Regions from separate parts of the Homo sapiens genome. Here region 1 is linked to region 2. Evidence: fine-mapped expression QTL. Tissue or cell type: whole blood. Region 2 holds a variant in brackets; the other region holds the start of a gene. All regions are shown on one strand. Distances are between the middles of the regions.

Region 1 (8,187 bases), 73 kb after region 2:
AAAATAGATATTAGAACACACACCATACCTTTTCTAATATATAATTTCAAAAGCAGGCCATTTGACAAAGCCTGAGTGCATGGTGTGATTGACAGTGAATGAACTGATGCCAACCTAAAGTAGACAGACACCAGCGGCCCAGCACACATGTCCAAGTGTCTGTACTTGGTTCCATCCTTTCAACTGTTCACCAGTAATTTGCACAAACTCACAGAAATGTGTAAAAGGGCAGCCAGCATAGGTCCAGAATGATGTAACACAATGGAATTTAAATGCTAAATCCCTCCATTAAAGGCTCACAAAGGCAGTTCCACCAACACCAGTCAAAAAAGTCAAAGATTCATAACAATTTATGTTTTAAAAAAAGGCATAGGTAATGTAAATACAGGTTTAATACAGGCCAACAGCAATATGATTGCACAAAAAACGAATTCAATATTAGACTGCATTTACAAATCGCAAATTGCCAAGAAAGTTACTACTGTCTACTAAAATTAGTACTGATGTCCAGGGTACTCCCTTTCAGCGGCAGCAACAAGACTGAAAACGTTTGATCATTCTCCCAGCAAGCCCCTTCCCCCATAGGAGTCAGAAGACCAGTCACGCATTTGGAAGGGGAAGGAGAGAAGCAGAGAGGAAGGAAGCGAGACTGCTGTCTCCAAATGTCTGAAGGCGGTCCCAGGGAACAGAAAGACAATCAAGGGAGGCAAACTTCAGTTCAATACAAGAAAAGACATGCCAGAGATCAGGGTTGCTCATAAACGGACTGGCCCACCAGAAAGGCAGTGAGCACTTCACCAGTAAAGGCCAGACCCGCTGAGGAAACAGGGACAGTAGGTTTCCCTGCTCAGGAGTAGGTTTCCCTGCCCAGCCGCCCCTACACTGGACTTTCACAGGCAAGACTGCCTCCCTAACTCCCACACCTCCCCATTCTCTCAATCAAGGCATTATATGAGAATGCACATTAGTAAGAAATGTTAAGACAAGCACTACTGCTATATATTTTTTTAATTTGCAAATTCTGGTGCTTTAGCAAAGGTCAGAGACACTAACAACTATTAATAACTCATGAACTCTGATAGTTGGACAGCTAACTCACTGGGATACCAGCAACGCTGCTCTCAGATCCAATACTCAGATTATATTCATTCTATGTAGTTTCCCTAAACAATTTTCCTAAACAACGTTCTCAATTTCAGTACATTAATAGATTTCAAACTCAAAATGAGTACGCTTTTCCTGAAATTACTTCACTTCGTAAAGGTTGCAGGCAAGAATTCTTTGCAGGAATTTCTTAAACTCAGAGAATTGATCTTAATTCCTCTACCAAAGCAGAGATTGAGAGGTGTGGAAGGGTGAAAGCAGATTTCTATTTACAGACATCCGTTCTTCTCCATTATTTCCTCACTTTTTGAAACTCACCACTAAGTGACAGTGCAGTGTTCAAACAGATACCTAACATGGTTTAGGTCCCCTTCTAATTCTACCCTCGTCTCAAGATTACAGATTTGAGCAGCTCATTACTCAACTATTCAAACTCTAAAATGATAGCACTGTCATCAAAGGTACTCTTTGAACCTTCGAGAAAGAGTACTCATTCCCTAATGCAAGATACTCGAGGAGGAAGCTGCCTGTCGAGCAATCCAACTTACACTCTAGGGAAAAGACCCAGGCGTCCACGTCTCTGCTCGCTTCCTCACCTGTAGAATATGATTCTGAAACCCACAGTGGTACTGCTGTCAAAGTCGCCCCTTTCAGCCTGCACAATACACTCCATATCACCTGCTCTAAGGGCCAGGCTTTACCTTTCTGAACGTGGATGATGTCCGGGAAGTTAGCCAGATGCCCCTGATACAGCGCTAATAGGTCCATGACGGGATCCAGGTCCTGCCTGGGCTGCTCCGCGAAGAGCTCGCCAATGGCGTCATAGGCATCTCCGGTGAAGGCGATAGCCTGGTTCAGGCCCACCGAGAAGGCCTGCTGGTCCAGCTCAAAGGCCTGGCTGAGGCCGCGGAAGGACTGGCCCACCTTCTGATACTCCTTTTTGAAGCCGGTCACCTGCTTGCGCGCGAACTCGTTGGCCGTGTGGTTGAGCTGCAGCGCGCTGTCGTCCATCTTCTTGGTGAAGCACTTGAAGCCGTCGATCTTGCTCTCCACCTCCTGCAGGTCAAGGGCAGCGGCGGGGGGCGTGCTAAGGGTCAGGAAGAAGTTGGCGCCCACCATCTCGTCCTTCTCGGCCTTCCTCTTGCCCTGCTTCCAGGCTTTCTCGTCGGTGCTGCTGGGGCACGTCAGGAAGTGCTGGAAGACGTCGCACTGCGCCAGCACTGGGTGGCTGGCCATGTGGTTCATCCACCAGATCAGGCCCTTCCTGCGCTTAGAGATGAAGTCCTCCTCGAAGCGGCCGGTGGCCTGCTTCTCGGGCAGGTGGGGCACGGAGATGACCGGGAACTTCTCCGCCAGGCGCGCGTACAGCCAGTCGAAGTGCTTGTAGCGCCGATGCACCGGCACCTGCGTGTGCGTGGGCACCAGCTTGTAGGAGATGTAGCTCTTCATGCCCTTGAACTTGGTCTGCTTGGTGGGGTCGTCGATGGTGCACTGGAACGGGTAGGGGTTCTCCTGCCACTCGGGGCCATAGGGCCCCAGCACCACGCACAGCTTGTCCCCGTCCTTCACGAAGCCTGACGCCTCCCCCAGCACGAAGGCCTCCCCGCCGGACTTGACGAAGGTGGAGAAGCGATTGAGGTTGCGGCTCACGGTGGCCGAGCTCTTGGGCCCCGACGGGTGGTGCTGCGGGGGGACCGAGCCGCCGCGGGAACCCAGGGACAGGTCGGAGCGCGTGGACAGGCGGTAGCGGCCGGCTGCGCCCACACCCGCCGAAGACGAGCCGTCGAGGTCCGGGTATGCTCCGCTGCCCAGAGCGCCCGGCTCGTCCGCCACCGTGGAGCTGTCGTCCCACTCGTCGTCCCAGTCATCATCGCTGCCTTGGCTGGCCTGGTAGCCGCCGTAGAGCTGCTGAGGCGACGGCTGCAGGGCGCCCCCGCCGTACGGGAAGCCCGCGCCGGGCGGCTGGAAGGTGCTCGGAGGCGGCGCCTGCTGTGGCTGCAGCAGCGCCTGGAAGGCGTCAGGCGGCGGCTTGAAGGAGGCGGGGGGCGCGACAGGCAGGGGCTCGAAGCCCCCGGGGGGCACATTGGCGTAGCGGGCCGGGGCGCCCGGGCCGCCGTCTCCCGCCGGGCCAGGCTCGGGGGCGCGGATCACCTGCACATAGGAGGCCGGGAAGAGGCCGCGGTCGCCGCGGCTGTTGACCCCCTCGAGCCAGCCCTCGATGTCCTGCTCGCTGCACAGGCTCAGCACCTCGTGCTCTCGCAGCGAGATCTCTCCTGGGTTCTCCGACCTGAAGTCGTACAGCGCCCGGGCGCGCAGCGCCATGGTCCCGGCGCCCCGACTGGCGGTCCCGACTCCCGGCGTCCCGAGCCGAGGCCCACCTGAGGGGCCCGCGGTACTGCTCGAGCCCTGGCGCGCGGACTGGAGCCCCGAAGGCGGCAAACCCACGCTGCCCGGACCAGCCGGTCGCGCCCTCCGCGCGGCTCCGCTCGCAGCGCCTCCACTTCGCAGCGCCGACTGCCGCGCTGGGCCGCCGCAGCCGCCGCCGGTCGGGGGCGGGGCCCGCGGCCTCCCACGTCTCCAGCTGCGCTAATCCACGGCCGAGAGCCCCTTGCCAGGCGAGAGCAAGCGATGGCCGAGCCGCCGAGCCCACCGCCCGCGTCGGCTTTGCGGCGGCCACTGCCCTCTAGTGGCCGGTGCCGCGAAGCCGGGCGCCGTAGTGAGCGCGGCTGAAGGAGGTTTCTACTCCGAAGTGAATTATCTGAGATTTCTTTAGGCTTTTAAGTTAAACATTCTCTAGAAAGTAAGTTAGCATTTGCATGCCTGATAAACGTTCCCACTCTGAGCGCTCAGTGAATGCTCCTAGAATGGCAACCCAGTCATGTAATAAAGCATTTTGCAATGCGAATTAGTGATTGCACTAAGAAAACAGGATGCCTCTGCGGAGGAGCTGTTCACCTACAGAGCAGGCTCCCTTCCCTCTTCTGCTCAAGGAGAGGAGATTGGCAAGAACAAAGTAAGGGCCAGGGAAGGTGCTGTGATTGACAAAATTAGAAGCAAAGGATCATGTAGAGAGGGAGGAGCTGGAGAGTTTCCAGTACAATAAATGCTCACACATTTATTACATGCATGTGTCGCCTATCCTCCCATAGATATATGTAGTGCGGTGAATGAGAGCTCAAACTTCGGAGCCAGGCTTCTGAATTTCAATCTGTGTTCTGACACTACCTAGCTGTATGACCTGGAACAAGGCACTTATATCGTACCTACCTCCGGGGGTTGTTGTGGGGATTCCATCATAAAGTAATCCCTATTTTACAGATGAGGAAAGTGAAACAATATCTGGCAGGGTAAGCAGATTTGAAGGGTTTGTTGCTGCTTTTGCTGCTGTTACTGTTATTTGGGGGAAGCAAAATCCCTGGCCTCTTTCACAAAGGGAATAGGGGTACTAAACTAACAATTGCAGGGTACATGCACCAGGAAGCGTCCCAATGTTCACATTGCCACTCCTAGTAAGAGGTCAGTGACCATCCATCCATCTGTTGTCTCTATGTCTCACTATATTTATATTATTTTTAAGATAAATAGAACAAAAATCACTTCCTGAAATAATCAGCTCCAATCTATCGTTGCCTTGTTTCCTATCTTCCTTTCCTTCAGTGTATAATTTGCCCAAAGCTTTTTCTTCTCTTAATCCCCTCTTATTAAGTCTAGCCTAATTATTCCTTTGAAGACACTTCTAATTGAGGTTCTGCATTCATGTGTCATTAATTTCAGCCTGTCCTCTGACCCTTTTCAAGGAAACCTGGGAAACGGGCCAGAAGAGTGTACAATTATTCTAAGGGCTGTGGTATTGTAAGCATCTTGCACAAAAACACAAACCCACTATACCAGAATCACTCCCACAGTGTTTATCCTAATGCAAAACCTTAATTCAATTCAGTAAGCATATTCTAAATTACATTTTTAGCTGAAAATTCTGGGTTTTGACTATTCTCACAGTAAGCAACAGGGATCATTGAATTTCAATGCCAACATTTCATGTGGTCAGAAACATGAAGTCCACATTAACTAAACCTCTAGAATATGACTCATTTTACTTCTGAAAAGCTAACCTAGAATATGTAAGATAAATAAATTTAGTTTCGCCCCTTCTGTTCGTTTAGTAGTTACTTTTTAGATTAGAGTTAAGTACAGTAACTTTGGGCTTATTTCAGGTGTGAAAATTCCAGGAGTTTAAGGTGATGATTTTTTACAGACTGGTTGAGCTACTCTGTAGAAATGGTGGTTGAGGAATTATTGGGTGTCCAAGGTTGTTTGTAGCACTGGGGCATGGGCGTCTGCAGGTGCTTACTTTGTAGGAGTCCAGTGGGAGGCCTCTGTGCTTGCCGCGCATCAGGCTTCCAGAAGGATGAGGACAGGCTGTCATGATGTTTGGCCCTATGGCCACTAGTGGCAGGAAAACCCCTACCTCTAGAGGGTCTTAGATATGTAGAAAATTGTGCTCCAGTATTAACAACCTATAACTGTTCACTCAGGGAAATAGATACAGTAACACATTTTGTAAAGATTTCTCTAGAAAATGGAGCATATTATTCACAGTTTAGTTTACACAATCATTATAACCACCCATATGCTTCTGTAAAGTTTTTAGGGGACACTAAATGACCCCAAACAATTGCATTTTCTTACTTCCTCCCTTGGCCTGAGAGGCCTTAGATAGCCTGGCCCTTGGCTATCTTTCCAGCCCCCTTTTCCACTGAAAGAAGCCACAGTGGTTGCTTTGCTATTTTTGGGACAAGTCAAGCACGTTTCTTGCTGAAGTTTTTGCCTTCGCTTTTCTCTCTCCCTGGAGCCCTCTTCCCCGGGAGATCCACCATGCCACATCATCGCTTCATTCGGTCAGAACCATGGGGCTTTCCATCCCTCCTTTCTTCTCCTTCCTTGGAGATACCGGAAGACAGAGGGAGCCTGGGTCCCTGAGTCACCGACCCCAATCATACTTTGTGAGAGAAAAATCCTTTGTCCGACTAAGCCACTGAAATTTCAGAGATTGCTGAGGCAGCTGGTACTAATTATGCTAATATAATCTCCCTCCCTCCCTCCCATCCCCTGTCCATCCCACAGTCTCACTTTTCTTTGTAGCAACTATGACCTAAGATAAACACGTCTATACATTAACGGCCTCCCCTATTACAACATAAACCTTTTCAGGGCAATGAGGTTTTCTGAGCACTGAGGATATAGCAATGAACAAAACAGACATGTTAGGCAACCAGTTAGTATTTGTTAGATGAATGAAAGAATGTCCACTTACATCCTCCCTAGATGAAGTCAGCTCTCTCCAGTAGCTCTTATTGTGTCTGGGTCAGCTTGCCTGGTGCCCTCTGCCACCCAGCTGTAACTGTTTCTAAGGCAGCTAAGTAACACTCCTCTTTAAATCAACAACGTTAAAGGTAACACAACCACCCAGAACACCACTGCAAATTTTCAGATTGTTAGAAATTTCACTATTACAGAGTGGGTCATTATTAAAATTAACACTATATTTTACTTGAAAACACTCATGTAATGCATCAAGCATTACACAAATATGTACATATGATTTTAGATGCACTTACACCTTTCCTGTGTTATTTCCTGCCGTATTTTCACACCAACTCATCCATGCATGGAGCAGATATTGCCATCCCCACTATCCCAGATCAGGACAGCCAACTGCAGAGAGGGTCGTCTGCTGAGGTCAGGTGACTGAGGAATGACCCAGCAGCTACTCAGCTGTCCTGAGAACTTCGGTTCACTGTGTCACAGGTCTGCACTCTGCTGGCGCCTCAAAACTACTACTATTATTAAACAGCATCCAGGCCCAGCACAGTGGCTCACACCTACATATATATGTTTTATGTATATAAAAATTTATATATACAATTTTTTATTATTTATATATTATATATTATATATATTTTATATATAATATATAAAAATTTATATATACTATATTAAAATTTCTATATAATATATAAATTTATATATATCATATATATTTATATAATATATAAATTTATACATATGATATATATATTTATATATTATATAAATATATATATCATATATATTTATATATTATATAAATTTATATATATCATATATATTTATATATTATATAAATTTATATATATCATATATATTTATATATTATATAAATTTATATATATCATATATATTTATATATTATATAAATTTATATATATCATATATATTTATATATTATATAAATTTATATATATCATATATATTTATATATTATATAAATTTATATATATCATATATATTTATATATTATATAAATTTATATATATCATATATATTTATATATTATATAAATTTATATATATCATATATATTTATATATTATATAAATTTATATATATCATATATATTTATATATTATATATTTATATATTATATAAATTTATATATATCATATATATTTATATATTATATATTTATATATTATATAAATTTATATAATATAAAAGTTTATATATTATATATAAATATATATTATATATAAATTTATATATTATATAAAAATATATAATATATATAAATTTATATATTATATATAAATATATAATATATAAATTTATATATTATATATAAATATATATTATATATAAATTTATATATAAATAAAAATTATATAGGTATACATTTTATACATATGCGTGTATATATGTGTACACACACATGCGTGTGTATATGTGTGTACACACACATATGCACACACGTATATGTAATATTGTTTTATACTTTATATATTTTATATATTATAAATAAAGTAAAATGAAGAGCAACAGCCATTTACTAGAAGGTTTGTAGCTAGGCTTAATAGAAAGCCTGGCTCAAGCCTGCACTCCCAGCACTTTGGGAGGCCAAGGTGAGTGAATCACTTGAGGTCAAGAGTTCGAGAACAGCCTGGCCAACATGGCAAAACCCTGCCTCTACTAAAAATACAAAAAAATTAGCCATGCATGGTGGCACACACCTGTAGTCCCAGCTACTCAGGAGGCTGAGGCACGAGGA
Region 2 (8,187 bases):
TAGCAACCTCAGATTGGCTGTGTTAACTCTTTTCTGCACATAAGGGTACAGTCTCATGAGTTTTGACAAATGCATATGGTCACACAATCAGCACCACAAGGCATATTTTCCAAAAGTTTCCTTATGTCCCTTTGCAGTTAGACACTTGCCCTGGCTCCATGCAAAGACTGATCTGCTTTCTAACACTAAAGTTTTGCTTTTTCTAAAATTTCATACAAATGAAATAATATAGCCTGTAATCTTTTGCATTTGGCATCTTTCACTTAGTATTGTGCTTTTGAGATTACCATATTGTTGCATGTATCAGCAGTTTATTCCTTGGTAATGCTGAGTAGGGTTGCTTTGTATGAACATGAAACAATTTACTTATCATTTATTTTTATGGCTCTTTTATGGCAATTATCTGTTTTATAGCTCATGCCTCTGTTGCCTCTCTAGGAAATGTTTGTCTACCCAAGATCACAAGGATTTCTTATCTTTTCTTTAAGTTTTATAGTTTTAACTCTTATCATTAGGTCTATGATCCATTTCAAGTTGAGTTTTCCATAATAGATGAAGACTGAAATTCATTTTTTTCCTATGTAGATATCCAATTGTTTCTACACCATTTGTTGAGAGGACTATACCTTCCCCATGGAATTACCTTAGCACCTCTGTCAAAATCAGTTAGCAATATATGAATGGGCCCAGGTTAAGAATAGTTTTTTCAGTAGTCTATATGTCTATCCTTTCACCAACACCACACTCTGTGGATTACTGTAGCTTTAAGTCTAGAAATCGGGTCATATAAGTGTTCCAAGTTCGTTCATCTTTCTCAAATTTGTTTTGGCTCTTCCAGGTTCTTTGTATTTTCATATACACTTTAGAACATGATCATCAATTTCTACAAAAAATACTGCTGAGATTTTGACAGGTAATGAGTTGGATCTATAGATCATTTTGTGGATAATTAATGTCTTAACAATATTCAATCTTCAATCTTCCAATCTATGAACATGGTATATCTGTCAATTTATTAAGGCCCAGACTCTATTCTTAACTTGCTGTAGTTTCTCCCCACTCCAATCTCCAGGATCAGTCAAGAAAGACTTTTTACTTTTATTTTTACTTTTGAGCCCCATTAGGTTCTGAAGGAAAGATTTCTTATACAGTGAGTTACAGGAAAATATATTAATGATTTAATGTAAATTAAAATGTCTACAATTAAAATTCCTTCCAGAGAAAATTGCAACTTTCACTTACCTATATTCCTGAAGGTAGATCCCTTAGAATTTTTTTCATAGAGCAGCCGACTATCAATAATATATTTGTGGGGCCAGGCATAGTGGCTCATGCCTGTAATCCCAGTACTTTGGGAGGCTGAGGCGTGTGGATCACATGAGGTCAGGGGTTTGAGACCAGCCTGGCCAACATGATGAAACCCGGTCTCTACTAAAAATACAAAAATTAGCAAGGTGTGGTGGCACACGCCTATAATCCCAGCTACTTGGGAGGCTGAGGCATGAGAATCGCTTGAACCTGGGAGGTGGAGGTTGCAGTGAGCTGAGATTGCTCCACTGCACTCCAGCCTAGATGACAGAGTGAGACTCCATCTCAAAAACAAAAACAGAATTGTGATTTTTCTAGGGTAAGGACTCAGCAAGAGGCAGAAATGAGAACAAACCCACGTCATTATCATCTTACATTGAAAATCCACTGCTCTCCTATGTTGGCAAGTGTAGAACATTTATCCAAAGGCAAAGCTCAGTCTCCCTATGTTATTCATGCATTGCCCTGTTACAGTCAAGCCAATTGTGGGAGACAGTGTCAGTGTCCTCGGATTGAATTGTTGACTGACCACAAGTTAATTTAGTCATGTTTTGTTCATTAAGCTTCACGATCATCATCTCAGTAATTTTACCAGTGAAAGTGTCCGTGGGTCCAGAGCTAACCAGTGCCAGGCAACCATTGAGAATTAGATCTGTCTTGCACATTCAGGGAAGCCATGTGTCCACAAATGGAGAGCAATTTGTTGTCCATGGGCTTTGATTTCACAAGTGCTAGGAGTTAGTTACTTCTAGAAGAATTCCTGGCACCTCTGTAACACCCATCTGAGAAGAGTGTCGTGAGGTGGAGGCAGCTCAGGTGAGATGAAGAAAAGAAGGGAAGGTTGATTCTGGAGTTGTGGAGGCCAAATTCGGCAGATCTCACATGAAGTGTCCCAGGTCACCATGTGTGGGAAGGAAGTGGGAGGCGAGGGTATAGTAAAGGGGCAGATGAAGAAAAGCAATAGCTCCCCTCTGGCACATTTCCCAAGTGAAGCCTTTTGAACAATTTTGAAAGTGATATGTTGCCATCACATTTGTTAAAGACCATAAGAGCCACTAGCCTGACTTTTGCTTTCACAGGGCACCTTATGATTAATAAACAATTGAAATATGGACAGAGTAAGCAAAGTACAGAAGGTAGTTATATCAGCCAGGATAGGCCAAGATATTTGTTAGCAACAAACAATCTCCAAAACTCGTAGTGGCTTAAAACAACAAATATTTATTTCTTGCACATGCAAAGCTCATTGGGGGTCAGGGTGACTCTCCTCAGGTGACAGCTCAATGATCCAGGATTCTTTGCTCTTGTGGCACCTCTGTCTAAAAACACATTTGTATGCACTGCTCTGACAACTGTGACTGGGGCAAAGTGTGGAAGCTCTTAATTCTTATGCCAATGCAAGTCACATGGTTACACCTAACTTCGAAAGGGCAGAAAAGATATTTCTCTTTCTACTAGGAGGTAAAGGAGAACATTAGTGACATCTACCACAGTAGTCAAAGGGGGACATCATTTTGAGTGCTCACAGTGCCACCAACAAATGGTGCAAGCTTTCCTGCCCACCTTCCCTTGCATGGCTCTGTGCTCAGCACTTTGCAGCCAAAGGTCCAAGACAGGCTGAGCATGGTGGCTCACACCTGTAATCCCAGCACTTTGGGAGGCCAAGGCAGGAGGATTGTTTGGGCCAAGGAGTTCGAGACCAGCCTGGGCAATATAGCAAGACCCCATTGCTACAAAAAGTAATAATACAATTTAAAAATTAGCCAGGAGATGTACAGCAGGCCTGTAGTCCCAGCTACTCTGGGGGCTGAGGTGGGAAGATTGCTTGAACCCAGGAGGTTGAGGCTGTAATGAACTATGATCACACCACTGCACTCTAGCCTGGCTGACAGAACAAAAGCGTGTCTCAAAAAAACAAAACAAAACAAAAAAAAAACCCAAAAAACAAAAAAGCAAGGTCTGGGTCAAATCTCAGAATGTGGTCAAGAGTGGTACCTTTAGGTGTTTATTCCTGTAATTTATGGAAGCTGACAGTGCTTCTGAGACAGGGAGAGAGATGAGGACATCAGGGGAAGGAAGAAAAAAGGAG[A/G]AGTGAGGGGGGATGGGGAGGATGAGCTGAACTTCACTTACTTTACTCTGTTTCTTTAGCTTTCACTAAGCCATGCCAGTGAGGGGAGAATTCATATCAAATGAACATTTACTCATCATGCACCAAGTGGCGAGCGTCAGGCAGGAGATAACCATGCCATGCTTCCTGCCCTCATGGAGCTCAGGATCTAGGGAGGAAGGGAGACCAGTAAGCAAGCAACGGATTACACACTAGCCGTGTGGACAGGATGCCGAAGCAGGGGACTGTCTGAGAAAAAAGGGCTTGGGTTTGAAACATGTCATCATACTTTTTTTCAAAAATGTATTTTCCTTCCCATTTAATGTCTGCTTAGTTGGATATCTAAATAGGTTTGCATTTTTGGAATAAAGACCAAAGATTGGGGTTGGGGTTGGGGAGAGCTAGTCAGGTATAAGTAGGGGGTCACTGACCAGGGCGAAATCCACATCACCTGCACTAGCTACACTCCTGCCAGTAGCTGTCAGATCAAAAGCAATGATCACATGGATCTGGCTTAGGGAGACAGGCCTTATCTGTTGCAGTTTCTGCTCAAAAGAAACCAATAATCTGACTTAGGCTTTAACAAAGAATGGCACTAAAACAAAAGGGGCTTAGGGAAGTGATTCAGAGTAGGATTCTCAACTATTTCAGTTACTAGAAATGCCCCCCGTCTAGAACTACATAAATCAAACACCCTCTGCTGGACTCAACTCCTCACAGAAGCTGACACATCTGACAGCATTGGAAATACTCCTTTTGGCCTTACTAGCCAGCATCAGAGGGAATGGATTGCTATCTCATTTGAATTTCTAACTACTGAAACATATTGGAAGAAGTCAACTGGAAGAGGCCATGTCTACTTTACCTCAAGAGGAAAGTGGCTACAGTTTGCCTTAAGACTTGGAGAGGGCTGGGTGCAGTGGCTCACGCCTATAATACCAGCACTGTGGGAGGTCCAGACAGGAGGATGGCTTGAGGCTAGGAGTTTGAGACCAGCCTGAGCAACATAGTAAATGCACATCTCCACAAAGAATTTTAAAAATTAGCTGGTCATGGTTGTGTGTGCCTGTAGTCCCAGCTACTCGGGAGGCTGAGGTGGGAGAATGATCTCGCCACTGCATTCCAGCTTAGTTGAGAGAGCAAGACTCTGTCTCAAACAAAGACGTGGAGAGAAAACTTCTCTGTAGGAGTTAGAAGAGAATCAATATCACAGGGCCCTGGTTTCCTCTAGTTTTGCAGAATCCATTGACTGGGCATTTCCCCCTCTGGCCAGTAGAAGTAATATTAGAGCAGCATCTTCACTTTCAAAGGTCAGCTTTGGGAAGGAAACGACTTCTCTTCCAAGCTCACGGCCTGTTGGGCACCCCCATAGAGTTTGGCTTTAGGTGCTTGCCGAAGGTTAAATGATTTTCATACCTGACTAATTCTTTGTACTTCAAATTCTTTCTTCATTTTGAAATATACCTCTTAAGTGGTTTAGAGGACTCAACCTATCGTGCAACCAAAACTTTGCTTTTTACCCCACTTCTTTAATGTTCCCTGAAGGGGAATGGAATTTTTTCCCTTAAGTTAAGAAGGCATATGTGTGGTGAGGGGAGAAAAGCTGGCCCTCGTGCCTCAGGGTTTGCCACACAAGCAAATATAGCTCCTTCAACAAGGCACAGCTTGGGCAGAGACACAGGGGTCTCTGGAAGGGAAAGGCCACAGGGATCATGGAGGGCAGCTGCCCTGAGAGCCGGCAGCTAGTGAAATGGAACAAATTACTAGGCAGAAGGAAAGAAATGAGAGGAAAAGGGATGCAACTTAGAGGACTGGCCTGGGGGAACAGAAGGTGACCGCAGGGCAGGGGGTTGGGGGTGTCAATGTATATGTGCAACTTTCAGGTTAAACTGCCTAGTCATATTTTCACTTTTGTCTTAATAGTTTCAACCTTCTATAAGATAAGATTAGTGTGCTCTTAAAGCTCTGAAATCATAGTGGTTTAAAGACAATAGAAGTTTATTTTTCTCTTATATAAACAGTCCAGAGCTAGTATAGTTGCTCCACAGACATGGTTCCCAAACTATGCACCCAGGCACCACAGGATACCATGGTAAATTTTTCTTATTCAAAGAAAATTCAGTGATACCTTGACATTTGTCATATTACTAGCTTGAGGTAGTTCAGAGTTCAAACCTCAGATCTTGTTACATTCTCTTTGATGATATCATACCTTTGCAAAGCTGGGTTTTCAGTGGCTGGTCTGATAAAATGCAAGTAAATGACAGTACTGTTACCCAATGTGATCCCAAGGTTTGAGAAGGTGTACAGTGCTCAACAGGTGCACGCATCCCACTAGTAAGTGATTGTGGTTATTTAAGAACAGAAATAAGAGCTGGGTGCGGTGGCTCACGCCTGTAATCCCAGCACTTTGGGAGGCTGAGGTGGGTGGATCATGAGGTCAGGAGATCGAGACCATCCTGGCTAACATGGTGAAACCCCATCTCTACTAAAAATACAAAAAATTAGTTAGGCGTGGTGGTGGGTGCCTGTGGTCCCAGCTGCTCGGGAGGCTGAGGCAGGAGAATGGTGTGAACCTGGGAGGCAGAGCTTGCAGTGAGCTGAGATCACGCCACTGCACTCCAGCCTGGGTGAAAGTGAGAGACTCCGTCTCAAAAAAAAAAAAAAAAAAAAAAAAAAAAAAAAAAAAAAAGAATAGAAATAACAGTATTTTTTCTTTCAATGTATTTGAATTATTTTTTTTTCAAATGACTTCTAAGTTGTTAGGACATAGCAAATTGCTTAGATACAACTGCCTAGAAACAGAATTTTTAGGCATTCTTTTGGCCTAGAGTCAATATGAAAAAATTATGGCGACACTATACTATGAAACGAGAGTGTTTGGGAACTTCTGCCACTGAGTACTGGTGTCAGAAATCCAGATTTCCTTGATTGGGTTGCTTGGATTCCCTAGAAGATTGGCTTCTTCCGCAACTTGTCCTCCTTCTATGAAAGGAGAAAGGGCAAAAGGGGTGTACACCTTCCTCTCATGGACACAACCTGGCAGATGGCCTCATCACATTCGTTCACAATCCATTGTCCAGGATGTCATCTTATGCCCACATCTAACTGCAAGGGAAGCACAGACAGTCACACTGTATCCTTGATGGCCACGTGCCTTAAAAAATATTGGGGATTTTGGTGCTGTGCACAAAAGTGAAAGAATGGAAATAGGTGACCACTTGTAGTCTCTACCACAGACCATCTGAATTGAAAGCAATGGTGCTGTACCCCTCCACTCTTAATGAATGGTGGTGTTTTCAACATCATATTAACTGCCAAGTGAACTAAAGAAGAGCAGCAGGCTCTGAGAGCATTGCAGGGTTCAGTAGAAGGGATTGGAACACTGGCAGCACCAACAATGAGTGCATGCCGTGTGCAGGTGCAAGTAATTGGGCACCACGGAGAGAAAGGACATTAAGGAGTTTTTTGCTTTTGGAAGTTATTGACAAGTTTTTAGTCTATAGAGATGAAAACATTAATTCACCTTTGGAGCACAGTCCTTTATTCTGGTAAGAGCAATTCTCTTTTCCAGCAGAAGACGCAATAGATTATGTCTTTGCCTTGGCCAGGGACTATTATTTATATACTGTTGATGTATATAGTACTTAATAGGATATAAATAACCACTTGTTTACAGAAAACCACTTGTTTACATACCAACCTGTTTATAACCTTTTGTTTACATACCAACTTTTACGTAAGGACAATTCCCTTCTTTTTTTGAGATACAAAATTATTAAAAGATATTGGATGGACTAGGGTACTCAAAATAAGACTTGAATGGATTCTCAGATTTAAATAATTTGCCATGAGATTAGAGGTTCACTGTTGAGCTGGCTGTTCCCCAAAAGCTGAATATCCCAGGGGAATATCTGTTCAGACCTGTGAGGCTTTAACTCTGCCATCAGGAGTTTGGAGTAATAGACTTCCTCCCTAAAAGAGGGGCTGCTCAGGAAAAAAAAAAAAAAAGGAAATAAATTCCCATTAACCTTACAGAGTGCTCACCTCTTTCTCCAGCAAGGGTTCCTTCCTCTGCTGTATTTGTGAGACATATCTATATTTATATACAAATGCCTGTTCATGAGTCAGGCCACTCTCCTCTGTATCATGGGCTCCTTCCATCCTTGGCTTGCCCTGACTTTGCTGCTGGCTTCATAGCAGGGTGACATGGAGCAAGCTATGATCCTACTATGTATGGTCTGAATGTCTCCTCTAAAACTCATGTTGAAATTCAATTGCCATTGTGATAGTATTAAGAGGTAGGACCTTTAAGAAGTGATTAGGCCATAAGGGCTCCGCGCTCATGAATGGATTAATGCTGTTATTAATGGGTTAGTTATCACAGAAGTGGGGTTTTCATTAAACAATGAGTTCAGCTTGATTTAATCCGTGTCTTGCACGCTCATATTCCTTCTGCCCCTCTGTCATGGGGTGACCCTTGCCAGATGCCAGTGCCATGTTCTTGGACTTTCCAGCCTCTAGAACCATGAGTCAAATCAACATTTTTTTTTCTTTTTAAATTACCTACTCTGCAGTATTCTCTTATAGCAGCAGAAAATGGACTAATATAGCCCCCATGGCCAGCTCTGCTCTGTCCCTCATTTCCCCACGGCATCATCACGCCAGGCTGCAGATGTAAATAGTTGCTAGTGAAGGACTTGGTGGCTAGAGGATATAATACACAGGAGAAAAACTTAAAACCTGGCACTAAATTGGGCCATTTCCAGAGT

The links. PIP is the estimated chance that this variant, and not a neighbour inherited with it, causes the effect.
Region 1: it holds the start of SNX18, and the variant in region 2 is fine-mapped to the expression of SNX18 in whole blood (TOPMed, PIP above 0.99).

The regions. Positions count from the first base shown.
Region 1 is chr5:54,513,192-54,521,378 of GRCh38, reverse strand. It overlaps SNX18 (sorting nexin 18), which reads right to left and starts at 3,620. Exons shown (of 2, transcript NM_001102575.2): 1 at 1,806-3,620. The coding sequence starts at 3,426. RefSeq lists an enhancer at 1,768-2,712 and silencers at 3,185-3,744, 3,625-3,866.
Region 2 is chr5:54,586,227-54,594,413 of GRCh38, reverse strand. It overlaps a transcript of SNX18 not described here. Among named protein-coding and RNA genes, the nearest start is that of SNX18, 73 kb to the right of the region's middle. The variant A/G (reference allele first, on the strand shown) is at 3,398.